Homo sapiens: one gene and its partner. The protein of the gene in region 1 binds, or shares a complex with, the protein of each later gene. Each region holds a gene or a part of one and is shown in the gene's direction. Other genes may lie near its edges. The genes, in order: TUBGCP3 and NME7.

Evidence for each region.
Region 2: TUBGCP3 (region 1) and NME7 share a complex: the UniProt entries of both Homo sapiens proteins name them as parts of the gamma-tubulin ring complex.

Annotation. Positions count from the first base shown.
Region 1 is NC_000013.11:112,581,599-112,597,283, reverse strand, and holds the start of TUBGCP3 (gamma-tubulin complex component 3), read left to right. Parts: upstream 1-9,130; 5' UTR 9,131-9,303; coding exon 9,304-9,379; intron 9,380-9,862; exon of another isoform or gene 9,863-10,054; intron 10,055-13,122; exon of another isoform or gene 13,123-13,245; intron 13,246-15,685. UniProt on the Homo sapiens protein: Component of the gamma-tubulin ring complex (gTuRC) which mediates microtubule nucleation.
Region 2 is NC_000001.11:169,131,658-169,146,807, reverse strand, and holds the end of NME7 (nucleoside diphosphate kinase homolog 7), read left to right. Parts: intron 1-13,990; coding exon 13,991-14,023; 3' UTR 14,024-14,277; downstream 14,278-15,150. UniProt on the Homo sapiens protein: Possesses an intrinsic kinase activity. Displays 3'-5' exonuclease activity with a preference for single-stranded DNA. Does not seem to have nucleoside diphosphate kinase activity.

The DNA of each region.
Region 1 (15,685 bases):
CACAAATCCCTAAAGAGGACAATCTATTTACAGCTTAGTCTGTATTCTGCAATTTTACCATCAGTTCCCAACCCAGATCCCTAAGCAACCTTAAGAGCCCATTAGTCAGGCTGACAGACCAGCCACCACTCTCTTCCTTATCATGCCATAAACTCCAATTTTTGTTTTTGTAAGATCAGAAGTAAGTTTAAAGTAAGTTTCAGCTTGTCAGTATCCCAGCCATTTCTTCTGGAAATTGGAGGAAATCCATGGGGGAAAAGCATTTCAAATGCCAAGGTCATCCTTCTATATGTTCTTATTCTCCCAAATCTTGGTTCCCAGGTTTTTTCACTGCGTTATGTTCCAGTACCTTTGAACATATGGTTTTTATATTGTATCCACTAGTTTCATGTGTTTGAAATGGGAGGATTGGTCTGAATTAACTAGTCTTTCATTACCCAAAATAGAAGTCTGGAAATGTTAGAATAATAGAAGTCATTCAATCTGAACAACAAAGAGAAAATATATTTTTTAAAAATGAAGAAAGCCTCAGAGACCCATGGGACTATAACAAAATAATTAACATCCACATCACCAGGGTTCTAGAAGGAGAGCAGAATGTGCATAGGACTAAAAAGTTGTCAAGGAATAATGTCTGAAAAATCCCCAAATTTGGCAAAAGACATAAACCTATAGATTCAAGAAGCTGAACAAACTCAAGGAAACCATGTCAAGACATTTCATAGTCAAACTCCGAAAAACTGAAGACAAAGAAAAAAAAATATTGAAAACAGCCAGAGAGAAATAACATCCTAGCATCAGGGGAAAACTATTTGAATGAAAGAAAAGTTCTCACTACAAACCACAAAGGCCAGAAGGAAGTGGCACAACATTTATCAAGTGTTAACTCAGAATTCTATATCTTGTGAAAATAGTCTTCAGGAATGAAAGGAGAGTCAAGATATTTCACATGGAGGAAAACAAAAAGAATTTGCTGCCATCATACCTATCCCAAAAGAATGGGTAGTTCTTGAAATAGGAAATGAAAAAGACAGAATCACGAAACATCAGGAAGAAAGTACAATGAAAAGAATGAAAATATGAATAACTACAATAGGCTCTCTTCTACTCTTGAGTTTTCTAAATTATATATGAGGCACAGACAGTACCACCATTTAGCGTGGTTCTCAATGTTTGTAGAGGAAATATTTATACCATAAACAGGGGAATGTAAAGGGACATAAAAGGAGATTGCGTTCATTCACACCATAAAATATCAACAGCAGTAGACAGAAATAAGTTATGTACATGTAAAGTAGCACCTAAAGAAACTCCTCAAAAAAGATGCACTGGGAAACATTATGGACAAATCAAACTGGAATTCTAAAAAAAATTGTTCAAATAATTCACAGGAAAGCACAAAAAAGAGAGAAATGGAAAACAGAGAATGAATAGAAAACAAAAAATATAATAGCAGACTCAAGCCTTACATATCAAATTACATCAAATGTAAATGGTCTAAATATACCAACTAGAAGATAGAGATTAGAAGGCAGCATTAAAAAAAATGGCCCAACTATATGCTGTCTATCCTTCAATCACAATCGCATAGTAGAATGAAAGGGGAAAAAAATAGAAAAATATATATACCATGCAAACAATCAAAAGAGGCAGTCCTATTAATATCAGATAAAGTAGACTTCAGAGCCAAGACAATTATATAATGAGATAAAGGTCAATTTGCTAAGATGGCATAGCAATTTTAAACATATATACACTAAACGACAGAGCTGCAAAATGTATTAATTGGCTGGGCAGGGTGGCTCATGCCTGTAATCCCAGCACTTTGGGAGGCCGAGACGGGTGGATCACGAGGTCAGGAGATCAAGACCATCCTGGCTAACATGGTGAAACCCCGTCTCTACTAACAATACAAAAAAATTAGCTGGGTGTGGTGGCGGGTGCCTGTAGTCCCAGCTACTGGGGAGGCTGAGGCAGGAGAATGGTGTGAACCCGGGAGGTGGAGCTTGCAGTGAGCTGAGATTGCACCACTGCACTCCAGCCTGGGTGACAGAGCGAGACTCTGTCTCAAAAAAAAAAAAATGTATTAATTGATAGAGCTCAAAAGAGAAACAGCAATCCACAATTATTGTTAGAGACCCTACTCTCCTTTCCCGCCAATTGATAGAACAACTAAACAGAAAATTCACAAGGACAGAGAACAACTTATGAACAATCAACTGGATCTAATGGGTATTTGGAGAACATGGCGATCAACAACAGCAGAATATATATTCTTTTCAGGTGCCCACAAAACATATAAAAAGATATACCACTTCTGACTATCAAACAAACCTCAACATATTTAAAAGAATTAAAATCTTAGTCTGTCTTCTCTTACCCCCACTAGAAATCAACAACAAAATAACAGGAAAATCTCCAAACACATGAAAAAGAAATAACACACTTTTCATTATCCATGGGTCAAAGAATAAGGATCAAGAGAAATACGTAAAAGTACACTCAACAGAATAAACATGAAAATACAACATATCAAAATTCAAAAGCTCAGCAAAGCAGTGCTTAGACAGAAATTTATAGCACTAAATGTTTACATTAGAAAAGAGGAAAAGTCTCAAACAATAACCTAAGTGTTCACCTCAAGAATCTAGAAATAGAAGAGCAAATAAACCCAAAGCAAACAGAATGAAGGAGATAATGAAGAGATTAATGAAATAAAAGCAGAGACATAACAGAGGAAACAAATAAGACAAAAAGATGATTCTCTGAAACTTAGATAGCTGCAGGTTTATTTTATAGATGACCTTTATCAGGTTGTGAAAGTTTCTTTGTAGTCTTAGGTTGGGAGTTTTTATTATGAAAGGGTTGGTTTTGTCAAATGCTTTTTCTGTGGCTATTAGAAGGTCATATGGATTTTTTCTTTTATTCTATTGAGGAGTTATGACATTAATTGGCTTTCAGATGTTAGCCCAACCTTGCATTCCTCAGATAAACCCCACTTGGTCATGTTGCTGGATTTAATCTGCAATCACTTTGTTAAAAAGTTGTACCTTTCTCATTTTATAGTTTTCTTATGATGTGTTTGCCTGGCTTTGGTATCAGGTTAATACTGGCCTTGTAAAATATTTGGGAAGTGTTATTTTGTCTCTATTTCCTGTAAGATTGATATCATTTGTTTCTTAAGCATTTGAGAAAATTCACCAATGAAGCCATTTGGCTCAGATCTTTTCTTTGTGGGCATGTAGTTAACTATAATTCAACTTGGTTACTTATACATCTGTTCAAATTTTCTATTCATTGTTGGTCAGTGCTCATAATTTATGTCTCTTTAGGAATTTGTCCATTTTATCTAAATTATCTATTTTTTTAAACATTTTAAAATTTCTTTGTGATATTTTTAGTTTCACCATGGACCCTTGTATGTTATTTCTTTTATTCCTGATTTGGCATATTTCTGTTTTTTTCTTTTCCTTTTGGCTTGTCCAGTCTAGCAAATCTGATCAGTTTGTTTTCCTAGAATCAACTTCTTTTAGTTTCTTCTGTTTTCCGTATTTGTCTTACTGTTTTCTAGGTCACTGTTTGCCATTCGGATCTTTTTTTTTCTTTTTTTTGAGATGGAGTCTTGCTCTGTCACCCAGGCTGGAGTGCAGTGGCATGGTGTCAGCTCACTGCAATCTCCGCCTACTAGTTTCAAAGGATTCTTCTGTCTCAGCTTCCCGAGTAGCTGGGATTGCAGGCACGCGGCAGCATGCCTGGCTAATTTTTGTGTTTTTAGTAGAGATGGAGTTTCACCATGTTGGATAGGCTGGTCTCAAACTCCTGACCTCAGGTGATCTGCCCTTGGCCTCCCAAAGTTTTGGAATTTAGATAAAGTCTCTCTCTCTGTCCCCCAGGCTGGAGAGCAGTGGTGTCATCGTGGCTCACTGCAACCTCTGCTTCCTGGGTTCAAGTGATTCTCTTGCCTCAGCCACCTGAGCAGCTGGGATTACAGGTGCGTACAACTACGCCCAGCTAATTTTTGTATTTTTGTAGAGATGGGGTTTTACCATGTTGGCCAGCCTTGTTACAAACTCCTGACCTCAGGTGATCCACCCACTTTGGCCTCCCAAAGTGCTGGGATTACAGGTGTGAGCTACCGCGCCCAGCATCCATTCTGATCTCACTCCCCTTCCTTCTACTTAGTTTGAGCTTGATTTGGTTTTCCTTTTCTAGATTCCTGGTGCGGAAGCTTAAACTATTCCTTTAATCTCTTTCTTTCTAATGCAACGATCAAAACTTAGCAGCATCCCGTCAATATTTTGAAATGTTTCTTTCTTTTTCGAAACTAGTTTTATTGAAACAGAGTTGGAATGCAACATGCTGCCTGGAAAGTTGGCTGGCTGCAGCCCAAATGCCCTGTGGGATCTTTCAGGTCTGACCACGGGTGATGACAAAGGCCCCACCTGGCTGCCTCATGGTGTGTGGCCAGTGCACTGCCGTGTCTGAAGGCTGTTGCGGGGAAGGACCTGGGTGCCCTGGGTATCCCCTGTGCCCAACCCAGGCACCTCCCTTCCGAGACCACATGGGTCCCTTGGCTGAGGCCTGTCTTAGGTACCTCTGCCAAAGCCTCCTTTTCAGGGGGCCTGGAAGACATTTTTCCCACTCTGACTTTGCATTCAGCACTTTTCCACTCTCAGCTGCCTCCCTCTCTCTCTTCCCCTGACTCCAGGGCCATAGAATGGCAGAAACCTTTTGTTAGGGGCTCTCTGGGCAGTGAGACAGTATCCCTTCACTGCTGTCTTCACAGACACACCTAACCTTCACCCAGTGCCGTGGGGGAAAATGAAACACCAGGGTGGGGGCTGGCACTCTCAGTGAGGCCTCTGGTTTCTACTCCTGCCGGGAGTGACACCTGCCTGGTGGAACCTGCGTTTGGCCTTTGACCCACCCACCACCCGGCACCTGGCAGCCGGCCCCTCTCGCTCAGCACCTCACAATGCACAGATTAAAAGTGTGTTGTTTGTTACATTTAAGAACCAGTATTGAAGCATTATGAATCAAAGTCCATACTTTGAATTATTCAGACTACCTAGTTTTATCTACTATCTATGTCGGTTGTGAACTATTCCATCCTATGTCCAGGCATAATGCAGAGAATGGTGTCCTGGCCACCTTGGGGGTAACCATGGCCATAGGTCATTATCACAGAGTCCAGATGTTCCATCTGGAGCCAACCAGTAAACACCCGGTCACTATGCCCACTCAGTGGCATGCCAGCCAGGACTCTGTAACACAATGGTGTAGATGCACTGTTCTCTGGGTTCCATCCCGTATCTCCAGTGCTCCTGGGCCAGGGATCTTTGATATGATTCTTTTGTTCCCAATGTAAAGGGGCACGTGAACTAAGTTGACCCAAAGAGAGGGTAAGTCAGGTGAAACCATCCCAAGTTTGTGTTATGCCATCCCGATATTGAGTGGTCTAATCTCTCAGCTGGTGTAGTACCAGCATTAAGGTATGTGGACTTTTACTGGAAAGCTCTTCCTATGGCTTTTGCTTTGTAAAGTATCATTCATAGGCCAGTGATGCACACTTGCCTTCATCATACTAGTGCTAAGCACCAATGACTGTCCTGAGAAACACAGACACATTTCTGATATTCTGTCTACTCTTGTCCTTGAAGAGGAGCTGCCACCATGGTAGGCCAGAACCACCAGAAAGGGGCGCAAGGCCACACACCTAACGAGTGTTGTCCTGTAATTTACTAGCACAGGCCCAAGCCTACTGCAAGAAGATGTTTGTTTCATGGGCAATGGCTGGTGATGGTAGCAACAAAACAGAAGAACTAGGGACAAAAAGAAGGAAGTGTGGTGGGAACTTGTAAAGGAAGACCTTCCTCATCTACTGACGATGATTATATTAAGGGTTTGTCTAGATACAGGCCTGGTCAGGTGTCTTGAGAAGGCTGATCGCCTCACATGTTGTTTTCTTCTCATCCTTGTTGGTTCTGGAGAGTTTTAGTTTTAGATCACCAATTTGAGATGAAGTCCAAATTGACAAAGCAGCTTTCCTTGCATGGGTGGCAGGTATCCAGGAATCAACTCCTTTAAGCTTAGTGGCACAAGGGTTGGTTAGGAGTCCCTGATAAGGTTCCTTCCTCCTTGGTGGAGAAAGTCCTTTAAAGGATGCTGTTTCCTACAAAGTCTCCTGGCTGAAGTATGTGTTCCTTGAGTTTTTGCTTCTTGGAGCTCACTGTGGAAAGAATCTTTTACTAAATAACAGTTTTTACTTAGGTGCCTTATGAGGCTGCTGCAATAATACAACCTGTCCCTTTTTAATATCATCGATTTACAATTTCCTGGAGACAATTTCATAGGTCTGTCCGTTATAATTTCAGATGAAGACAGTTGGTGTTTACCCATAAGGGCTGATCTTAGGTGAAGCAAAAACAAGAAAGAGCTTCCAGTCAAGGGAGTTTTAAAACTTCAGTTAATTTTGCCAAATGAGTTTTGATTATTCTGCTTGTGCATTCTACTAACCCAGATGACTGGGGTGATAGGCACAATGGAAATGCTGGAAAATGGGCCAGATTTTGCATACTAACTGGATTATTTGTGCAGTGAAATGAGTGCCTCTGTTGCTATAAAGTTCTTGAGGAACTCCCCAAATCGGAATAATTTTCTCTAAGATAATTTTACTTACCGCCAAGGCTGCTGCTCTTCTGCATGGAAATGCTTCTACCCATGAGAAAATACACAAACCATCACTAGGATGTGCCTGTATCTTTGTGATGGTGGTAGCTGAAAAAATCTAGTTGCCATACCTCGAAAGGGCCTTCTGGTAAAGGAAAATGACATGGAGAACTGGGTCAAGGTTTCCTTGCATTATATTCTGGGAAGACAGCCCTGACTGTATACCCGTGAGCAACAGTTGGAGAAGGTTTCCGACAACATTGTTCTCCTCAAGAAATCAATAATCTTATCAGGGCTCCAGTGAGTCACATCGTGTATGCACGTTAAGAAAGATGGCTGGACCGGGCGCGGTGGCTCACGCCTGTAATCCCAGCACTTTGGGAGGCCGAGGCGGGCACATCACGAGGTCAGGAGATCGAGACCATTCTGGCTAACAGAGTGTAACCCCGTCTCTACTAAAAATACAAAAAATTAGCCCGGCATGGTGGCGGGTGCCTGTAGTCCCAGCTAGTCAAGAGGCTGAGGCAGGAGAATTGCGTGAACCCAGGAGGTGGAGTTCACGCCATTGCACTCCAGCCTGGGCAACAGAGCGAGACTCCATCTGAAAAAGAAAAAAAAAAAAAGAAAGATGGTTGTAACTTAGTTGGAAGTATGAGTAGAACATTTGGTCAAACCGTACATCAGTCTCAGAAGCGCATGTGCCACTTTTGTTTCCCAATTTTCTCGTCCTGTTTTTGGAGATTTAGATTGAGCTAATTTTACATAAAAATCTAACTTCCTTAAAGGCCAAAATGGTTTGATCTTTTTGTTCAGATATGTTTATGGCCACCCTGTTTGCTATACTACCTGCTAACTGGCTTATCTTGCTTTTTTGAGTGTCTTTGAATGGCCTGGAATCTTGATAATGGCTAATGATTTTGGCAATAGTATGGCTTGCCATAATTCTGAAACAAGGCACCCATTTTTTTGTGGGCTGACTAGAAAAGGTTAAAAATCCTTTGTCTCCATAGCATTCCAAAGTTATGAGCTACTCTATAAGCATACCTGCTATTGGTATAAAGATTAGCAGTTATTCCTTTTGCCAACTGACAGGCTCTAATTAATGCTATTAACTTTGCTTGTTGAGATGATTGCTCCTGGAAGACAAGCACTTTCTATTTCTTTGGGCAAAGACGCTATGGCATAACCAGTGTAATACCTTCCAGCTGCATCTTTAAGTAAGAGCCATCTGTAAACCAAATAACATCAGCGTTAGTGAGGGGGGTTCTTGCATGTCTGTCCTAGGAGAGAGCTGGTCAGGTAAGATGATGCAGTCATGCAGCGTTTCAGCTGAAGGTGGGGGAGAGGGTGGCAGGATTTAGATGACATCTGGACATTGTAGTATGCGGCTGAGAGAATAACTTCATGAGAAGCCAGTTACTAACTGATCGTGTTGAGTGTGATGCAAGTTTAGAAGCGTTTCCACAGAATGCGTATCGAAGGCAGTGAGGGGTGATCGCATCCTTGGTGGTTTGGTTGCTCTTGCAGAGCTGTGATGGTTGTTGCATCATGCAAGGAGACAGTCCTTTAGCTGTAGGGTCTAGTTGTTGACTGTAATACCCTACAAGTCTGCTTTGTCTCCATGTTTTTGAGTCAGAACGACAACAAACGTTTTACTTGCCAACAATTCTGCAACCTGAGCTGGACCCAGGCCCGACGGGCTTTGCAGACAGTCACGTGTGTGGCTGGCCTCAGCTGGGATGTTGGGATAGCTGGGTTGTCCTCCCTCTTCCATTTCATAGGATCTCGGGATCTCTTTCCATCATTTTTCCTTAGGAAGTTGGCCTTTTAACATGGTAGCTCACGGCTCCCAAGCGTGCACCCATGTGTAAGCTTTAACGATTGCACTGAAGTTGGCTTGGTGTAATTGTCTGCTTATCGATCTTTTTCTCGGCAGGTTTCCTGTTCTCTCACTCCGTACGTGATTAATTTATTTTCCCAGGACGTCCCAGTTACCCGGGCCGGGGGGGACCGGCCCGCGCGGCAGTGCGAGGTCGGGCCTGAGCAGGGCGCCTGTTGGATAGCGTAGCAGGTGAACTGCCCACTGCACGTTAACAATCGTAACACCCTGCACCCTTTAAACAGGCTTCTTTTTTCTTTTCTTTTTTAAACAGGCTTCTTTCATCAGAAGTGTGAATCAAACCAATGCCGTTAACACACACACCCCCACACCCACACACCAAATTATGGCCTTTATGGTGCTACCGGCCACCAAGTGCCCTCCAAGCAAGCCCGTCACGCTCGCGACTCCGGGGCCGCTCTGTCCGCGCAGCTCGAGGGCCTCGGGCCACCTGTCGCCCGGAACTTTCTCGGCCGACCGGGCAGCAGCAGGGGGAATGCACCAGACAGGGCCGGGAACGCTTAGGCAGCCGCACGCGCGGCCGCGGCGCAGGGAAGAAGCGGGGCATTGTGGGAAGCGCCCGCGCTTTCGGCGGGTTCCGTTAAAATGGCGCCCTGGTGGCCGGCGGCGCCCGCGCCTTAGCCTGTCAGGAGCAGGGAGCTTGCGGGGCGCAGGAAGGGCGCGGGCCGCGGTCCCTGCGCGTGCGGCGGCAGTGGCGGCTCTGCCCGGACCACCGTGCACGGCTCCGGGCGAGGATGGCGACCCCGGACCAGAAGTCGCCGAACGTTCTGCTGCAGAACCTGTGCTGCAGGATCCTGGGCAGGAGCGAAGGTAGAGTGGCCGGGCGACGCGAAGCCCGCAGACCCGTCCCGGGGGCTGCTCCCTGCGCGTGCAGCCCTAATACGTTCCGGGGCTGGAGGAACGAGGATGCAGGGCCGGGCAGAGGGCTGGGGGACGGGCCGAGGACGTGGGGCCCGGACGAGGGAGCGGAGGGCTGGGGTTCGAGGGTCAGGGAGCCGGGGAGGACAGCGGAGGGCTGGGGGCCAGGACCGGGGCGGAGGGAGTGGAGAGGCCAAGGCCGGGGCGAGAACGCCGGGGCGGGAGGCGGGAGGGCGGAGCCGAGCCGGAGCGGGCTGAGTCACCGCTCACTCCGCTCGCGGGTCCGTCAGTGAGGACGGGAGGAATGCCAGCTCGCCAATTTATCCCCCTTCTCTGGTGTCACGCGCCGTGGGAGGGCGCCTCTGCGCGCCTTTGGGTTCATCCTGTGGGGTGGAGAGAGCGGCTGCGCCGCGGAGGTGGATGCGGGGTGCTGGAGTGTCACATCATCGTCCCTTTTCGTTAGGAAAGTTTAACAGGCTTGAGTATTATGGGAAGAGGGTGTTAACGACTGTAACTGCCGTGTTTTCCTACTGTTTAAAGGGTTGAAGGTTGGATTTGATATAAAACTATTCTGGGAAAGTTCACATGGCGAATATTGTTACTAATAAGCAAAACTAATCCTATACGGTAGGTAAAACCATTTTGTAGTCGAGGTACTTTGAAAGAAATGGTACAGGATGCCATTTCTTGCTCCTTGTTTTGGCCAGGTTGGTGGGGCAGAGAGTGAGGATGCACCATGAGGGAATTTTCTGAGTAATGGAAGCAACTGAGTTACATCTTAAGCACCAAAATGTGGAAAAGAAGTTACTCAATTTTTGAAGGAAGACTTCAAAGTTACATTTAAAGTACTGAGAATGCATTTTGACCTTTCATGCTTCATGACAATTACTGTACATAATTCATTGGATGTTCTATGATAATCTTGGGGCAATCATGAATAATTTTGTGTCGCTATTAAATGAGTGACTTCACACAGTTCTTGCTGCATCTTGTAAAGTTTGATTCTATCACTTTATTTATCTAAGAAATCTTTGAGGACAACCCCGTCCTCAAAGTTCCCCCCGGGAACTGTGCTAAGTGCTGGTGATGCAGATGCACAAGTCATTCCTCCCACAGATCTGACAGACACTCTACTGGAAGAGACAGATGATAAACCAGCCATGTTAATTAGCAATAAGTACTGTGGCGAAAAAGTAGGGTAAAGGAATAGAGAGGGAAGAGGCAGGTGAGGGAAAGCCTCTGAGATATTTAAAGAGACCTGAATGGAGTAAGGGAGGGCCATTTGAACATCTGGGGAAGGTTCTGAGTAGAGAGAACCAGTGGAAAGGTCTTGAGGTATGAGCATGGCCTGCCATCGTTTGTTTTTGTCATTAGCAGACTGAGTTTCCTTTCACATGTTTCATGTTCCTCGTCATAGGGGGAATCAGATAAAACTAAGATTGTTAGGACTTACCCACCTTAATGTCAGTGTTTTCCTTATACCAGTGGTTCCAGAGTTTTTTTTTCTAGGGATAAACCACACATTCATACATTCCCATTGTTATAATTGGATTTTGAAATTCATTCATCATGAGCTAGAATGATATTTCTCAACCTAAGAACTTTTTTTTTTTTTTGAGACAGAGTCTCACTCTGGTCGCCCAGGCTGGAGTGCAGTGGTGTGATCTCGGCTCACTGCCAAGCTCTACCTTCCGGGTTCATGCCATTCTCCTGCCTCAGCCTCCCGAGTAGCTGGGACTACAGGCGCCCGCCACCACGCCTGGCTCATTTTTTGTATTTTTAGTAGAGACGGGGTTTCACTGTGTTAGCCAGGATGGTTTCGATCTCCTGACCTCGTGATGCACCCGCCTCGGCCTCCCGAAGTGCTGGGATTAGAGGTGTGAGCCACCGCGCCCAGCCAAAAACTTTTTTTTTTTTACATTGAAGATTCTTTGATATAAAAGTTTTGTCCCTTCTAAGAGACTGAAAAGCTTCTTTTCAGCAAAATTCTGTATCCTACTATCTTCCCATTTAGAACTGTGTCTAAAAGTGGGCTCTCAGATCCTGACAGGGTCCTCTCTGAATAAATAATTTATTTATTTATTTATTTGAGATGGAGTCTTGCTCTGTCACCTAGGCTGGAGTGCAGTGGCATGATCTGGGCTCACTGCAACCTCTGCCTCCTTCAAGTGATTCTCCTGCATCAGCCCCCCAAGTAGTTGGGATTACAGGTGTATGCCAGCACTCCTGGCTAATTTTTGTGTTTTTAGTAGAGATGGGGTTTCACCATGTGGCCAGGCTGGTCTCCAACTCCTGACCTCAAGTGATCTGCACCCCACCCCCCTGCCGCTTGGCCTCCCAAAGTGCTGGGATTACAGGCACGAGCCACTGCGCCCGGCCCTCTCTGAATAAATTATGTCATGAAGTCCATTAAAGGTGATGCTCTTTTTGCTATGTTCTAGATAGCTAGGATTGTCAAGCATTTATGATATAATTTTAAATTATGCTGCTATTTACTGAAGAATTTATAAATAGTAGCTTACCTTGTTCTTTCATTTGTTATACCTTAGTGAGCAAAGGAGCAATATTAATTACTACCTTTACAATATTTGGTGTTAAAAATTTGATTAGTGAGCATTTTATCTGGTAACTCCATAGAATATTTGATTAATTACCTTATTCTTTGATGACATATTACAATTGGCCTTATGCTTTTGTAATACATTTTTTTTAGTACTATGAAATCAAGGCATAATAGGTACTTGTTACTTTTAATGAGAATTTCATATGAATCACATTTTTATAAGGTATCTTTTAAAAAATTATACAGTTGACTTCAAGGGACCTTCAGAAGCAAAGCACCTACATATAATGGTGCTTGACAGTTTTACAAAGTTAGCATGACCATGATTTACCACCTTTTCCAACTTATAACATCTGTGAATTTGCTTGAAACACATACTGCCAGCCAGTCATAGTCAAATCCTGTCTCCATATCCCTGCCCCTCCTGGGAGCACATTTATTTATTATGTCTTTGCGTAATTATTCTTATCATTGGAAACAGTGTGCTTGATGTTAATGTTCAAATCTGTCAGAGGTAACACTTCTTTTCATAGCTACTTTGTAATCCTTTTTCTAACTATGAGGTAAAGAATACATAAAGAGGAATTTATATTAGATAAGTATTTCATCATAAATGTTCAGGTATGACTACAGTACACAGCATATTCGAAGATGATTGCCATAATATGCAAGACCTCTATGAGTGTCCTACAAGCCACTATCAGAAGATAAAGGATTATTGTTTTGGTGATTCAGTACCACAAGTGGTGTTGCTATTGGTTTCATGATTTTCCAAAATGGTAAAGAGCTTTTGATGAAGTTCCAAATACCATGTGATCTTCCTTTGGTTATATAATTACATTCTTGGGAAGATCAATGTGTATTACATGTATATTAAGATATACATTAGATGTGTATTAAAACTTCAGAGTTTCAGGCTTTGTTTCAAGTTGTACTTGATGGATTTACTATTTTTCAATAAGTTAAAATTTAAAAATTGTTTTGGCTTAAATTTCTAATATGGTAACTGTGGATAGATATAACCTACATAAACAAAAGCTTTTTGGAGTTCTCAATCGTAATAGTGTAAAGAAGCCCTGAGACCAAAGAGTTTGAGAACCACGCATCTAGAGTAATGTTTTTGTTGTTTTAGAGCATTGCTTTTCAACTAGAGCCATGCATTGGAATCGCCTGTGATTTCACAAGAACCTGATAACGTTGATTGCCTGTGGGAAGGGGAGCTGGTGGCCAGTGGTTGAGAACAGGACTTTTTATGGTATCTAACTTCATGCCTTTTCATTTTAAACTCTCTAAATGTGGGACTTACTCAGAATTAATATTGTGGGCTTCATCTCTAGGGCTTCTGATCCTGTAGGTGTCTGTTGGAGCTTGGCATCCGAAACATTAAAATGCGTGATAAGTTACTCTGACTTGCATCTGGAGTCAAGGGTGGCTAGTGTATGTGCTCTGTTCCTCTACTAAGCACTGTGGCTTACTCCCAACGCCCTCCTGACCCCTCCCCCATCCTTCAGAAAAGCAGAAGTGTGGAACATATAGTCCACGCTGTCGACAAGAAACAGGAAGGCAGAAACTTGGGTCTCCCCAAACAGTTCAACTTTTCCGCAGTTGTTTTTTGAATCTTGAGAAACACACAACTGTGGAGTTTCTGTATTCACTTGAGTCGAATTTATTTTTGTGCATCTTGAAGTTCAGTTGTCATCTTTAACCTGAGTGTATATAGAATCTTTTGGGGATACAAAGGGCAACTTTTTTGTTTAAAAGCTCTTGGGCCCACATCCAGGTGTCTCTGGAGCCTTCACATTTGGGACTGAACGCAATTCCAGCTGAGGGTCTTGCCTTGGCTTTGTATCTCCTCTAGTTCCTCTTCTCCTCTTCAGTCAGAGGGTCCTTTCTAGAAAACCAATCTCATCGAATCTGTTGAAGGCTTAATTTGTTCTCTATTTGTAGTCTTCAAGATGAAGACCAAATTATCTTGCTCAAGGTTAAAAATTGGGTGCATTTTTTGAGTTGTGATTCTAATGGCTGTAGCAGATATAGTATGTATTTAATATTTTCAGGTTAATAACAATACGAATAGCTAACATTTATATAAAACTTAAAATATGCTGGATGTTGTGCTTATACTGTGGTAGAATTATGGTGAACCTCATTTTCTAGATGAGAAAACTGAGACTTTGAGAGATTAAGTAGTTTGCTCACTATCATCGAGCTAGTAAATTGCGGGGCCAAGGTTGGAACCCAAGTTCTGATTCTACAGCTTGATATTTTGAATTAATTCACCCCGGCTTTTAAGTGTTGAATTTGATGGCGAATTTCTCTGTGTGCTCGATAGAGACAATAAGTCATGGCCCAGCTTGTGGGATGGCTTCTCACCTCTATCCGCTCTTGTGTTTAGAGTGTACAACTCAGCAGCACTGCTCTCTGGTCAGGCAGTGTGCCCTTGCATTCATTGAAATAATTTCAGAGGATCATCAGAGGAGTGTTCACTCCCCTTCCAGGAACCTGAGAACTGCCCACCCCTCACACACCCAGAGCAGATTAGAGGTGGGAGAACTAGACCTCTCCTTAGGTGATTTGTGGCCAAAAAAATGGAGTACTCTATTTTTCACTCTTGCATTAAGCAGAATCATCAGAGATCTACATCTGGACCTTGTCACCTGGGGCTCTCGATGGAGTGACTGACTGAGTGGCATTTAGAGCCCTGTGGCACGGCCTCCCTGCAGCAGCAGTGTCCAGTGCCGCCCTTCCCTGTGGGTTCCCCTCTCTGGTCCCTGGGCTCCTCACGTGGCAGCCTTGGCTGCCAGGCTAACGGTGTTTCCTGCAAGGCCTTCCCTCAGCATCTACTTCACGAGGTCCTCCTGGTCATGAGCTGTCATAGTGCCCTCATTTTCTTTGACGCTCTTATCACAGTCTGCCTTGGGTACTTATGTGCCACATTTGTTATGTTCTACGTCTGTCTCATTAACCACTGTACATCATATTGTTAGGGCCTGACGTGTTTGGCCTGTAGTAAGTATTTAGGAGTTATTCATTGAATTACTGATTGAGTTTAGTTATACTTTAAACACTGAACAGTATTTTGGGAGTATTTAAACCAGAAGCGTGTAGTGGACATTGCTTGATTTTTTCCCAGCTTATTCTTTGATTGCAGGTTCACTAAACAAGGAATGATTGCTATGTCTAATTTCTTTAGTAGTCTGGATTCTGTGCTTTTCCCTCTGAAGCACAGATTAAGTAGATTTGGTTTAAGAGGTAACAGTTGGATTTTTAAAAATATTTTATAATCAGCAAGAAGGATAAACTGGAAATTTGGTTGGTAAGAGGACAGGGAGACTCAGGTGTGGCTGAAGAGGTAAGTGGGGGTGAAATGATGACATCCATCTGAGGTGCAGAGAAAGTGAGGAGGTGAAGAGGAGAGTGTTTCTGGCATTGAAGAGTTCCTAACTTTTTGGTATGAGAAAGTTGAAAAGTATATAAAACATTTGGATTGGGGATATTTATGTGATGTACTTGAGTGTGAAAATGGTAACCTAAAAATAATTTTTACTGGCTGGGTACGGTGGCTCACACCTGTAATCCCAGCACTTTGGGAGGCCAAGGCGGGAGGATTGCTTGATCCCAGGAGTTCGAGACCAGCCTGGGCAACATGGTAAGACCCTGTCTGTACAGAAAATATAAAAATTAGCTGGATGTGG
Region 2 (15,150 bases), on another chromosome or scaffold:
TAGTTCACCCCTTAGTGTGAACTCCTTGAGGGCAGGGGCCATGTCTTACCTTTGTATCCCAAGAACCTAGCCTCTGTTTATCAGTAACTTAGTTGATTATTGACAAATGGCTGTGGAAGGAAGGGAAGGAGTAAGGCAGACCTAGAGCTGATATCCTTGTGTATTTATTTTACATTTATTAAAAGGTCATTGGGTTTAATCATTTGAGGCTTTTGAAATATATTCAAAGATGATATTTCTTGGATTTGATATGACTCCTCTGATTTAACCCCTGGGAAGAGGTCACTGGGATTTAAAGAATATGTATGTTATAGTCTGTCCCTTAGGTACACCACCTGATTTTATTGCTAAATTATGTCATACTCCAAAGGGCTTTGGCTGTACTTTTGGTGAGTTTATCTGTAATTATTGATAAATACATTCATTTTTGCTTAATTTATACAGAATGCCTGTGTGAATCACCCCAAATCACTGTAGCATTTAAATTTCCATCTCATGGTATAGCTATGGACTAGGAAGTCTGCCTTGGAAATTAGGGCTTATTCTTTGAAAAACCACAGATGTATTTATTATTTGAGACAAATGTGTAGTATGGGATCTTTTCTCCCTCCGATAATATTAAATGCTGTGTTCTCACTTGTAAGTGGGAGCCAAACAATGGTTACACATGGACATACATAGGGAAATAATAGACACTGGGGACTCTAAAAGCGGGGAGAGTGAGAAGAGGATGAAGATTGAAAAATTGCCTATTGAGTACAATCTTCACTATTATGGTTACAGGTATGCTAGAAGCCCAAACCTCACCATCACACAATATATCTATGTAACAGACCTACACATGTACCCTCTGAATCAATAAAAATAATATGAAATGCTGTATCTCTCCACTTTTTACTTTCTTCTTCAGGCCCACTATACTCTCATATTATACCACATTTAGCTCACATCTCTTGTGGTATGCACTGTGCACTCACAATTGTGCTGGATGCTGTTTTTGTTTCTAGGGGTTATAACAATTCGATTTTCCTCCATAATTCTATTTCTTGTTTTTAAATTCGGGTCAACATACATTGTGAATTCCATCTTTGTTGTAAGCACACCCTTATTTACTGCTTTTACTGACCTTGTCATCTTACAGAATAGTCTACTCTATCAGTGAGTGATATCTCCCATTCTGTCATTACCACTATGGTCTGAGCAAGAGTAGGGGCTGGAAAGAGGCTACAATGAGGCTATCTATGGATTTTCAGTGGGTAATTTTAAAAACTGTGCCTCCATGGAAGCTTCTGATAATGCTTCTGTCCTCACCTCCACCCCGCCTCCCACTGTGCTTCTATAACTGGCCTTATGACAACAAATGAATCTGGCATAAGAGAGAAGAGCACCAGAGTAAGTGAAACAGAATTGAGTGAATTAGCCGTCTCGTTGGATTCTACCCAATCACACTGTGAAAGTCCATTATGCATTATGCTTATATTCCATTGTGTAATGAATGGTAATTCTTCTAATGATAAATACTGGTCCCCTTTGGTACCAACCTTAGAGTTAGAAATAGCTTAATCTGTTGAGTAAATGAATAAAAACCGCAAGTTGAAAACAGCAAAAATAATTTCTTTGCTTGGAATATCAGTGTACATATCTTTCCGTGCAAAGTTCTCCACTTTTCTCATTACCCATTAACTTGTTTGTTACTCTACAATCTCCATCTGAGAGCTAAAATCTGCTGCTTACTATTCACAAGGCAGAGAGAATTATAAAACGTTATACAATAGTAGCACACAGCATAGCTTTGAATCTTTCCATAAAGTCATCATAATGGTACGTTTTCTGAGTATTGCCTTCAGTTTGTTTTAATAAAGAATTCATTGTTCTAGTGTTTACATGATGATTTTCTGTAACAGAAACTGATACTGACATTGATACCTTAGGCTAATGCAATTTTTAGTCATTTTACTGGGGTAAAAATAACTTTGTTGTATAATAAACAAATTGCTGAAGCAATCCTCCTGCTTCAGCTTCCAGTAATTGGGATGGCAGGTGCACGCCACAGTGCCTGGCTTCTTCTCACATTGATAATTTTGGTCCTTCTCAGGTTAACATACATTTATTGAAGGCCTGTTTGTGCCATTCACTGTTCTAGGCACTACGGCTAAATAAGACACACTCCTCATTCTCAAAGAATTTAACATTCTCCAGGAAAAATTGTTATCGAAATTGACATCAGAAAGTAAATGCTAGGAGATTGATCCTTCCTGGGTTTCATGAAAGCCCCTATCAGGAAGTAAATGCTAGGAGGTTGATCCTTATTGGGTTTCAGCACAAGAATCAGATGAGCCTCCTGTTAGATATGAAATCTGCTCCAAGTATTGGAGGATATGTTAAAAAAAACAAAACATAGAATAGTATTCCAGGCTGAAGAAATAGTGTGTATGTTGTATAATATATTCTCTTGTAATGGCCTTTGTGGATAATTACACATTGCAAGTATTCAATTTTATTTGCTAGTATTCCAGTTTGTCTTCTCATTTGAGGGATATTATGTATCCATTCTCTTAGCTCTTTACCTTGGTTTTTTATTTTTGTCTTTGTTTCCTGAGATGGAGTCTCACTATGTTGCCCAGGCTACAGTGTAGTAGCTACTCACAGGAGCAATCCCTAATTCCATGTAGGGAAACTACATGGAATTTGATATAGCATAGCTTAAAAAGACATTAGAGAATTGCAGATGAGCATGGAAAGGTAGCTAAGGCTCAAGTCATATAATTATTTTATGCCAAATTTAGGAGTTTGAAATTTATTCATAGGGTTAGTCCATGGACTGACTGGCTGAAATTGTTTGCAAAATGTTGTGGATGTATTCATTCTGGGGGGGAAATGGTCCGTAGCTTATTAGATCTCAAAGTTGTCCACAATAAAAAAAAATTGTTGAGAATATTTGCAGTGAAAAGTTTAAGTAAATGCCCATACTGTTCACTAATTAGAGTGAAGTAAGGCATAACCATATCCATGTTTCATATTACAAGAAATGTGATGTACAGAGCTGTCAGTGCAATGAATGGAAGTTGCCAGGAAGACTTCTGTAGCCAAAACTAAACCGTAAATTCATTCATTGAACATTTCACTGAACTTTTCCTATACACCAGAAATTGGTAAGCACTGAGGAGACAGTAATGAACAAGAGCTCCTATTCAGACACACATTCCATTCAGGGCTCATAGTCTAATGAGGAAGGCAGACATTAATCAGATAATCACAAAAGGAAATGGACAAGTATAAATTCTGATTATTGCTGTGTAGTGAAAGACAGGATGAGTTGTAATCGGGGAACCTGGTGTAGATGGGGGATTAAGAAAGGTTTCCTTTAGCAAATGGCATTTGAACTGAGGCCTGAAATGAGTGTCAGCTGAGGAAAAAGGTAGTTGACTCCAGGCCGAGAAAATAGCACTTGCTAAAGCCCTTATGCGGGGAATTGGTTGGTGTGTTTTAGAAAAGGAAAGAAGAAATATAAAATGCAAAAAAAAAAAAAAAAAAGCCTGAGGTGACACTGGAGAAATAGAGATTGGGCCATGCAGGGCTTTGTGGGCTATTTTAAGAATATGGATCTTTATCCTCAAAACATCAGGAGGCAACCCTTGAGGGGAATGGGCGTTGACATAATCAGGTTTATAGTTTTTAAGAGGTCTCTCCAGTTACCATGTGGAAAATGGACTGAAGGGGGTCAGGTTGGGATAGATTTGTTAAATAATAGTATAACAACTGAAAATACATTGATACCATGTACTTTAATTTATGGGTTGTTATAAATTCATAAAATGTGTCTAGGCATTAGTTTCTCCATGTGGAAAATGATGAGGCTGAACTTGTAATTCTCAAAGCTTGGACTCCCCTACAAATGAGCTGAATAATTGATCCTCTGAGACCTGGAGGCAGCAGCTCCAATCCTTAACCACTTCCTGTGCCGGCTCCAGGATGCCATGCGAGAATGAGCATTTTCTAGGTGCACCATGAGGTGACAAAGATTGAGAGGCCCTCCTCTAAACCCCTTTCCTGCACTAACATTCCATGATTCTAGGTTTTGAGGAAATCAAATTCTAATCCGACACCTTGGTTTTACCATTGAGGAATGTGTTGCCCAAAGAAGGAAAATGGCTCACCTAAAATTGCATGGCTTAGTGTATAGAACATTACTCTCCTAACTAGTAATCCTGGGTTTTTCTAGTTTGCCATACTGTCTCTGTATCCTTTGTAAGCAGTATAATGAATTATTATAATTATCAAATTGCAGGTGCTTCTTTTTCTTTCCTCTATTTATGAACAGAAGTACAGTTTATTCTTTTTTGATTACCAGTTAAGAATTTATTGCTGTAAGTCATCAAGCATCGTTTTACTAAAACTTGAAGACTAGAAATGGAGAAATTAATTCCTAGGAAAACAACACATCTTATCTTATTCTGGCTTAGCTGAAAATATTGCAAGACTAGCATTTCTATTTCAAAATCAGCCCAAAGGCTGTGAGCATACAGAAGTGATGAATAGAAAGATGTTAGCTGAGCTCTTAATGACTTTTACTTGATTTGAACTTGAGTTCAAAGGTAAATCAAAAGTTTAAAGTTGAACTTGAATCTTACTATGCCATATAGGCTTTCCTTAGCCTTCTGGAAAATCTAAAGTATAAGGGAGGTCCAGGAGTATAGTGATTCTGGGCACAGACTCTGGAGTCAGGTGGTCTGAGTTCAAATCCCCAGCTTCTCCTCCTACCAACTTCATGACTTAGGAAAAATTACCTTTCTCAGACTCATTTTATCTACTTGAAGAGTAGAAATAATGACATTTCACAGTAAAAATTAAATGAAGCAATATATGAAGTAATTTTCTCTTAAATCTTAAATTACCTCAGCATATGCTTTCACAATTTCTTTCCAATTTTAAGTGACAAAGTCCATCCCAGCTATTCACTTCATTATCTCATGAATTCTGATTATGTATTCTCTCAGCTTTTATCCAATCTAAGAGCTTTTTCACTTTTCTCATCTGTCCTTATAAAAAAAAAGGCATTCCATCTTCTAAAAAATTTTTATTTCTATTTTCTAACTCTATTATTTTTGTCTTGGAGCTTTTCTAACTGAAATGTGTATGAAGTATAGCAATAGGAACTTCCCAAGAAATAAAATATTCTGTGGTTTGTTTTTCTTGTAAAGAGTACTGTAATTCCTTGGGTTTAATTGACAACATCCTTTATGAGGACACTCAGCATATCAGCATTGATGGCCTCGTAGACAGCAGTCTTGGCCCAAGTATTCAGGGAATGACGAGGACATACTCCAAGATCCTTTTCCCGAATCACTGTTTATTGTTTATAAAACTCATCTTGTAAGCCTGCTTTATTTCCTTATCAATACCCAAGGTAATCCTGTTGAAGTTTACTCTGCTTTTCTGCCCATATTCCCCACTTCATCTTTTGAGGCCTACCTGTCTCCTTGGCACATTATCCATGTTAAGTGCCTCCAAGGTACTGTGGATACTAGTAAATGCCAAATTAAGTGAGGGGTTTTATTCTTTCCCCAGATCACATATAATGATATCAGATGGGCTTGGTTTGGGCTCTGATTTCGGAGGCACCTACTTTGACTAACTATCTAGGACAGTAGTTTTCTTTTTTTTTCTTCATCCAGAAACTTTATTGTAAATCATTTGTCAACAAGATCTGCATTTCTAATTTCAGTTTGTCATTCCTCTGAGGCACAGAGAAAGGAAAAGATGAGATTAGGGTTAATGTTTATTGAGCACTATGTATAAAGGATCTTATTTAGTCCTTATAAACAATACTAGGGCAGTGGCTTTCAACCCCAGTGGACATCAGAAGTGTCTGTGAAGCTCTTTGAAAATGTGGACGTCTAGGACCTACCCAAGACCTAATGAATCAGACTCTCCAGGGTGGGGGTGTAAGCATCTACTTTTTGGTTCTTTAAAGATCCATAGGGTGATTGTGATGTACAACCAAGTTGAAAATCACCAATCTTGAGAACTGGTCTTTATATCTACAATTTCTTTTATTTGAAATCTTTTTTTTTTTTTTTTAAGGATAGACTGTTCCCTGTCAAAATCTTTTCTTCTCTGGGAGCCACAAAATGAATTTCTAAGAGGAAGTGTCAAGGTCACCTGAGTTTTTCCCCTCTGCTTGCTTGGCATTCATAACTGAGAAAACCCATCCCTGAAGCTTTACTGTAGCTGATTTGTAGCAGAGCCCATCCTGGGCTACTAGTTTCAGAGTGGGAACATGGGGCCATATGTCCTTTTTAAAAAAGTATTATTTGTATAATGTGCTACAACTTTATAAATTCACCCAGAAACTTACATGCCCACTAAATCCAATGAGGTAGGTTTTATTATCTTCAATTTTTAGATTAGGAGACAGGCTCAGAGAGTCTAAATGATTTGCCTAAGAGCACTAGGAAATAGTGGCTAGAATAAAACTCAATTCTTCCAACTCCAAATCTAGTACTCTTTCTGTTCTTTCTACTGATTAATATTTTTATCATTCCATTTTGAAATAATTTCAGACTTATAGAAAAGTTTAAAAAAATACTTTCCACAAGCCCTTTACCTATATTTGCCAAATGTTAATATTTTACCATGTTAATCATCCTTTCTTCTGTCTTTCTGTACATATGAATTTAATTATTTATAATATTTAACAGTATGTTATAGATGTAATTCCCCTTTATCTCTCAATACTTCAGTGTATATTTCCTAAAAACACTGATATTATCTACAGTCACCACAGAAAGTGATTGCGAATCAAGAAGTTAACATTAATACGATACTATTATCAAGGTACAGACCTTCATTTTTTACCCACAAATGTCTTCTGTGGCAAAAGAAGAAAAATAGTTTCTGGTTCAGGATCCAGTCAGGGATCACATATTGCATTTGGTTCTCACGTCTGTTTACTATCTTAGTTTTCAAAGTTTTCTTAGTCTGCCTCTGCTGTTCATGACTTGAATAATTATGTATGCTATCATCTGATAAGCTGGAATTGACAGTTCTGGCTGTCAGCACTTGATGGAGTTATTCAGAGATACTTGGGTTCAGTGACATACAGCAGGATGGGCCATAACATTAGGAGAATATTTGGAAACCAATAATAGTGATATTTATTATGCAATATTTATGCTGGACACTATTTTAAATGTCTTCCATATAATTCCTCATTTAAACTTCACAACAAACCTACATAGTAGGTATTGTTACATTATAGATGTGGAATCTGAGGAACAAAGAAGTTAAGTAACTTGCTCAAGGTTACCTGGCCAGGAGATGGCAGGGCTAGGAGTCAAATTCCAACAGCCAGGCTACATCCCTAGTGTGAGCTCTGAACCAGCACAGGCTGAACCAGAGACATTTAACAAAGTGATATGTCTTTAGGCAAATTATTAGCTCAAAAAACTTGAGTCTCATGAACTGAAAATGGGACTAATAATACCAATGTCATAAAGGTGGTTGTAAGGATTACACACAATAATCTGTTAAAGCATTTGGTATGTAGCAAGAACTTCATTTTTTAAGAGTAAAATTTAAAATATAAATATGGAAAAATTGACCGATAAGCATATCTGAAGAAGATACTGTTATGACTAAGAAGATACTGTTATGACTAAGAAGTTACTGTTATGACTAAGTTCACACTGAGATGAGAAAACTCTCAGAGAATACCTTTTTAATCATTACAGGTAGGGAGGAGAAGGGAACAGAAGCAACAAACATCTGTTCATATTTTGAGAGACTGGGGAGATACCAGTTACAACCAAAACCATCTTCGAGGCAAAAGGGGCTAGATAATGATGAGTCATGAAACACAATTTTATGATGAATTTATGGAAAGTTGTAGCCTTTAGTTATATTAGCAAAGAAGGTAAATATTTTCCATAAAGAGAAAAGTCAGCACCACTCTACTCTGGGCTGAGATATAATTACCTTCCAGCTTTTAAAAGGGAATTTTCTCCTTAGTGGGTGGCAGTCAGAGGAATCAAGAGGTTTTTATCTTTTGAGTTTTTAATTTCATATATACATATCTATATATATTTTAGAGAGTGGGTCTTGCTCTGTCACCCAGGCTGGAGTGCACTGGCATGATCTTAGCTCATTACATCCTCGACTTCCCAGGCTCAAGTGATCCCCTCACCTCAGCCTCCCAAGCGGCTGGGACTACAGGTGTGCACCACCACACCCAGCTAATTTTTTTTGTTGTTAATTTTTTTGTAGAGACAGAGTCTTTCTATGTTGCCCAGGCTAGTTTCGAACTCCTGGGCTCAAGTGATCCTCCTGCCTTGGCCTCCCAAAATGCTGGGATTACAGGTGTGAGCCACTGCACCTGGCCTTGAGGTTTTTAAAAGAGAACTCTGAAGACATTGGGTTTCCAGAATTAGAAAAATGTATAGTCATTTTAATGTGACATTTTCATTTAGTCTTTTTTTTATTTTTATTTATTTATTTTTTTGAGGAGTCTCGCCCTGTCACCCAGGTTGGAGTGCAGTGGCACAATCTCAGCTCACTGCAACCTCCACCCCCGGGGTTCAAGCAATTCTCCTGCCTCAGCCTCCCTAGTAGCTGGGATTACAAGCATGCAGTACCACGCACAGCTAATTTTTGTATTTTTAGTAGAAACGAGGTTTCGCCATGTTGGCCAGGCTGGTCTCAAACTCCTGACCTCAGGTGATCCACCCGCCTAGGCCTCCCAAAGTGCTGGGATTACAGGCATGAGCCACTGCACCCGGCTCATTTAGTCTTAAAACATTTCAAATATGTCAACTAAACCTACGGAGAAGATAAGCATATCTGAAGAAGACACTGTTATGATTAAGTTCAACTTAATTTTTTAATTAGACCATAAATAGATTTGTGGGGGGTACATCTGCAGCCCAAGGGCTTTTGGGGTTCTATAGCTACAACAATAGGCAAGGATGGATTTTTCATCTCCTTTCTATCAAGGTTTGAATGTTTCCTCTGAGTCTTTCCACCCAGAGAACCCTAGACTTCTTTCAGTTACCACTCCTTTCCTCACTATTGACCACTTCTGAGCCCCATATTTTGGGAGCTGAAAAGTAAGTAGTGCCTTGGAGAGGGAAGACAAAAAGGGAAAGGGAGCCCAGCAAAGGTTCATTCAAGGCTCACATGTGCATCCCCTACTGGTAGCTGCCTCTTGCCATCCCCACAGCATAAGCCCTCCCCTCCTCACCCCTGCCCAAGGCTGCAGAGCGCCATCACAGGGCCTCTGTTCCATGCCCGCTGAGTCTGCCAGCTCACACCTTCCATAATCTGCCTCACCCTGCACCTTCCCCAACCCGCCCAACTCTCAACCATCGATCTGTTCATTGCTTATTTTAAAAGCAGCCTTTTCAACCACATTTTTCATTCAGTCATTAGGACAACCATGCTAAAGCAACCCTACAGTAGACGCCCTTGGCTTTAAGCAGAACTGGTGCAGAATAAAAATGTCAGGCCTTTTTTTCAAAATTCATTAAGAATTTCAAGACAGCAGCAGCAGAGCATTAAACCAAACACAAGGCTCTTCTAGGCATGTGGCCCCGTGCACAGACTGCAGGCCCATGCAGCCAGCCTTGGCTGTAAGGGGCCCAAGTGAGTTGAAAGTTGGTCATCTACTAAATACACTGATATATTTAAAACTCAGTATCATATTATTGGAACACTAACAAAATTGCACTTCAATCAAACTGACTAGATTTTATCCAAAAATCTAGTGTAGTGACACAGGCACACATATTTTAATTTGGTGCTGGAATTCCACAACTGTGCGATAGATTCTCTAAGTGTTCAAGCACATCTGTACTCTTATTTAAAAGAAAATATAACTCCATAGGCATTTCTGATACTCAATCAACATTAAAAACCATTGGAAAATAGATGCCTGCATTCCACCTCTAAAGTGTCTGATACACTAATGAAAGAATAACAAGCTTCACAAAGCTATTGGGAAGGAAATGAGATTTATATGTGAAATTAGACTATGCACTATAAAGTAGTAAATAAATGTAAGCTATTGTTCTTATTTAAATTTAATGGTGATAAAGACAGAACGAGCCTTCAACTTAATCTTATAGGTAGTCAAGTATCATTATCCGTTGGATATGTTGAATATGTTACATGAATGGCAGAAGAAGGAGGGGAAGGAAGTGGTATCGATGAGAATAGTTTAGACCATGTAAGACGTTTAGAAGTACAAAAGTAAAAATTTCATGAGGACCTAGTGTGTTTGGACACTCCCCTGTGACCCCCTACCTCTACCCCACCCCAACATTTCATTGTCAGTGCTGGGTACATAGCAGGTGGCTCAGGAGAAATTTGCAAATGAAAGAAAAGAAAGGCCTGCTCTAGGCAAAGGTTTCAAACGTTTATGGTAGGCATGGACTTCTCCATCTATTATGTTTCATTTTCTGCAGTATAACCTGAGTTGTATTATACTATTATACTATTCTCTTGCTGTCTAGAGGCTCCAAAGCAGACTCATCAGAACCTCCCCAAGGCCTAATCTTTACCTGCTGGTTATTTCAGAACCCCTGCTCCTTATCAAAAGGAAAGGATCCTATGTCCTATTCCTGCAGGATTGTTCCATACTCCTTGAAGCACTCCAAAAGACAGACCAAGTAATGACTATATCGGGCACTGGCTGTGCCCGATATATGTGGCTGGCTGTTTTAAATTAACCCGTGTCACCTCCTGCCTGGTCTGTATAGGGTCAACACTAAGGGGGAATGTATGTGTCTCCTTGGAAAAGATAGCCCTAGAGGCCGCCTATGATTTTATGAAATCCAAGTTTTGTAAAGGCTTTGTGATAAAGCTAGCTACAGATAGTATGCTTTACTACAATATGGGCATTCTCTTAGGGTCTAGGATGCCTTTGTGACTAAATGAAAGAGCTGAATTCTGTAGTCAATAAGAGTCAACACCTTAGTAAGATACTTAATCCCTCAGAAAGGACTGATGCTGAAAGTCCCTCAGAGAAAAATAGAGAATTAAAGCATGAACCAAGATACCCGCCTTGTTTCACCCCTTTGTTTCACATGACTAGGATATGGGTGCTCATTGGAACCATCGGTTGGAAGAATAACAGGCTTATCTATTTCTTGATCATCTTTCTCAGTGTAGAGCCCAGGGGACTACAGATAACATGTCTGGTTAACAGTAGCCCCCTCTTAAAGAAAAAAGGAGAAAGTCATGTTTTCTCAGTTGAATTTGAAACCAAGATCACTTTATTCACTCAATTAAAACTGCTATTGTCTGTTCCTTGGATAGTTTCCCTCTGTATTCATAAGGTCCCTTAGTCCTAGATTTTCAAGGTAATGTTATTTGGTTCTCCTCTGTGAGCCAAATATACACAGATATCAAAGTGTTACTAATCCTTTAAGAAGCCAGGAGTTTAAGCTATTACTGAGCTTTGAAAGGTTCTCATAACGGAACTTTTGTTTCTGATCACTGATAATGTTTTTAATTTGGAGTTGGAGCAGTTCCCTCTGGTATTAGGTGCAGCTGGAGCAGACAGGGCATGCTATTGTTCTAAAGTAGATAGGTTCTGGGTAATGCCGTTTTTGGTTGTTTTTTTTGTTTTTGTTTTTCAAGACAGGGTCTCACTCTGTTGCCCAGGCTTACCGAAGCCTTGAAGACTTGAACCTCCTGGACTCAAGCTGTCCTACCACCCCAGACGTCCAAGTAGCTGAGATCACAGGCGTGTACCACCATGCTCGGCTATTTTTTTTTTTTTTTTTTTTTTTTTTTGTAGAGACGGGGGGATCTCCTTATGTTGTCTAGGCTGATCTTGAACTCCTGGGCTCAAGTGATCCTCCAACCTCAGACTCTTAAAGTGTTAGGATACAGGCATGAGCCACTGTGCCTGGCCTAAAATGCTATACTGTCAAGCAGAGTCCTAAATTTTAGCCAACCATTTATCACTTCCATGCTTTTTATCATATTTACCACCTGAAATTTTACTATTTTTCTTTAAATCCATTCAGTGCTATACTTGAACAAATTTATTTTACTGCTATAAATGGAAAACTACTTGTTTTAAACTATTCTTAATTGAAGGTAATAAAATACAATGAAAACCAGTTTAAAAATCCTAGCTAGGTAACATCTTATGGCAAAGCTTCTGACACCAAGGCCTGTCCCTCTTTGTTTGCAAGGGAAATTAACCAGGGTTGAGGACATACTAACTCGGTATTTCAGTTTTCCTTCCGAGAATATGAAGGGTTGAAAAGAGAATCCTTTTTCTCTCTTCAGTATTTAAATGCTTTTCATTCCAAGTAGTCAGCCTATCTTTGAAAAACTCAATCCCTTTATATTGTGTAAGGAATTAAGTATTTGACAGGACTTGTGTGAAAACCCATTTCTTGAATGTAAGAACACCCCAAGGGAGATAGATGGCACTGTCCCTACACCCATGAAATATGTCATCTACTGAGGGTCAGAATAAACTGATTAAAAAGAAATAATAAATGTATTGAAGAGTCTGAGAAATATGCAAATGGTTAACACTAGAATATGAGCAGCAGAGGAAAAAAGATGGAGTTTTGTCTGTTTTGTTCACTGATAGATCTCTCACTAGCTGTTAGAAGAATGCTTGGCATATGGTAGGTATCTGTTGAGTCTAAGAACACAAACCACATTCCCCAGTCTCCTAGTGGTGATATAACACTAAAGATCAGGAGTGGGAAATAGGTTGGCACAATCTGGAGAAATTAAGAGAAGCAAGATTTGGAGAGAATCTTGGAGAAAGTTACAGACACACACAATGGCTTAGAACAGAAAGTACACAATACATACGAAAACAGGTTAAGTCTCACCAAGGTCGTGACCTTATAGCAGCCTTAAAAATGCAAAATACCCTCCAGTTTGAATGAATGCTCCCCTTTCCTCAGACCTAAAGCCCCATTCCCTTATTCACAAGCATCACAAATTTAAATATCACATACACCTTACAAAATGAGCTGATGTTTCTGCAAGACAAACTTCTATTTCCATAAATGTGGGTTACTTTGAGAAACTCAGTTTCATGTAGGTATGTTAGTTTGAGGATTTTTCTGTGTCATTTCAACTACTGAAGTCTCCTAAAGACTTCAACTATTAAAGTTAAGCAGTTGTGCCATTTTTCATAGTTCCCTTGCTATTTTTTTGTTAAGTGGAGTCATTGTTCCTCTGGTACTAATTTCGCATCACACAATTTGTTGCTCTAGAAATAGCAAAACGAGAAATAGATTACTGTGATTATAAATATGAAGCAGTAGGTGGAAACTGAAGCTGTTTCTGGCATTTCTCACCAAAACGGCCATGGCCTCCAGATCTGTCTCTCTGTAAGAGGGCAGCACCCCTGAAGACACAGTGCCACGTCAAGGATGTGTGTGAGCTCCTCTGCCTGCACAGGCTTTGCGAAAGGTTTCCGTTTCAGAAATACAATGCCCTGATTTTAGTGTGGGCATTTCCCATGTTAGTTAAGTGATACTAAATCTTTAATAATTATAGCTGGAAAATGTTTTTTGGAAAGCTTTTTTATCTTCTTTCACACTAAGGCTAATTTTTAAATACAGCTAAATAAGGACTTAGGCCAATCCCTGAACCAAAAAGCAAGGTATGAACCTTAATTTACTGAACCACAAACCTAACCTCATTTTTTAAAAACTGAAGTGCTAACAACTTTTTTTTTTAACACATATGTCTAGTGAAGCAATAGCAGGAACCAACACTTCATGTTTTCTAAACTGAGTGAAGTAGCAGTAGCACTGCAAGATGATTTTTTTAAATGGAACTTCAAACTGGAGCTTCATCGATTCTCTGCCTCTGATTGATTGATTAACTTTTAGTGTCTTTGGGAAGGGGTATGCCAGTGTCTGAAGTCCTGACCAACCTCTTGGACTCTGTTAAGTGGAAAAGACCAAAATTTGTCTGAACTAAGAAATTATGTGTTTCTCCGTTTCAGGTTCAATACTTCTTCAAGATCTTGGATAATTAGTGGTGTGGAAAGTAAAGAAGTCACAGGTTGGGACATTTAGACAAGAGTGAATCACACACGAGGAATGTGTTCATTCTTTTATTGTCCGTTGTTTTAACCTGACTGAATACAAGATCAACAAGAGCACTGTACTCCTGGCAATTATTACATATGTTAGAACATGGATTTTGCACTGTAGACAACATTTAACACCAGTCTATGGGGTACTGCATTGCTTTTTATAAAGTTCAAAATAAAGATTTATTTTCAAACAAGTGACTTTGGTTTATTTCATACATTACACTTTTTCTTGCAGAAAAAAATAAAATTGTACAACTGCATAAATATAAAATTCTTCCACCATGAAAATGGTTAAAACATTCATAAAGACACAGCACCAGCATGTGATGCCTCCAGAAAGGAAAAAAGGAAAGTAAAAGAAAATGTATAAAGCAAATTAATTAGCCCTGTCACTAGCCAAAGTGATGGGCAGATCCAGATCTCAGACACAGCTTTAGAACATACCGGAGGACAAGGCAAGAGATGTCAAGACAGCATTCAATACAAGCATAACACAACCCATCACCTTTTTGTGTTTTTCTGTAGTGTCACTTAAAATTTAAAGGGCAGTTCCCCCATGACAAACCCCCACCCCAGCCCCCAGGAAAAAAATAAAAATAAAGACCTAACACCACAGGAAAAGACTATGGAGTATGTTAAAAATGCTCATCGATGGGCCATTACCTTTGAAAGAGCCAAAAAACAAAAAAAAAAAAAAAAAAAAAATTACCATGCCAGTTTTATTCCCGTTGAATATTTACACCTTGGACAGCAAACCTTGCTCACATAAAGTAGAAAACAGATACAATAAAACATGGCTTGAAAAATGACCAGAGTATGCACCTGTAGTACTGTACACTAAATAAAATACACAAGGCAGCAATACTTAGGGGCCAGAAACACTGCTTACTACAAGTCAGTTACGGAATCATAATTTACAGTAAAAATGGGCACGTCCCAAGGCTCAATTTTTCTTTTTCTTTTGTCATTTACAGTAGAATAAATATTTTGTTGCTATTGCTACACTTTAATTTACATTCTAACCTATTAAATGCAGAAAGCTAGTGTAAAGCATATAGATTAAGTGT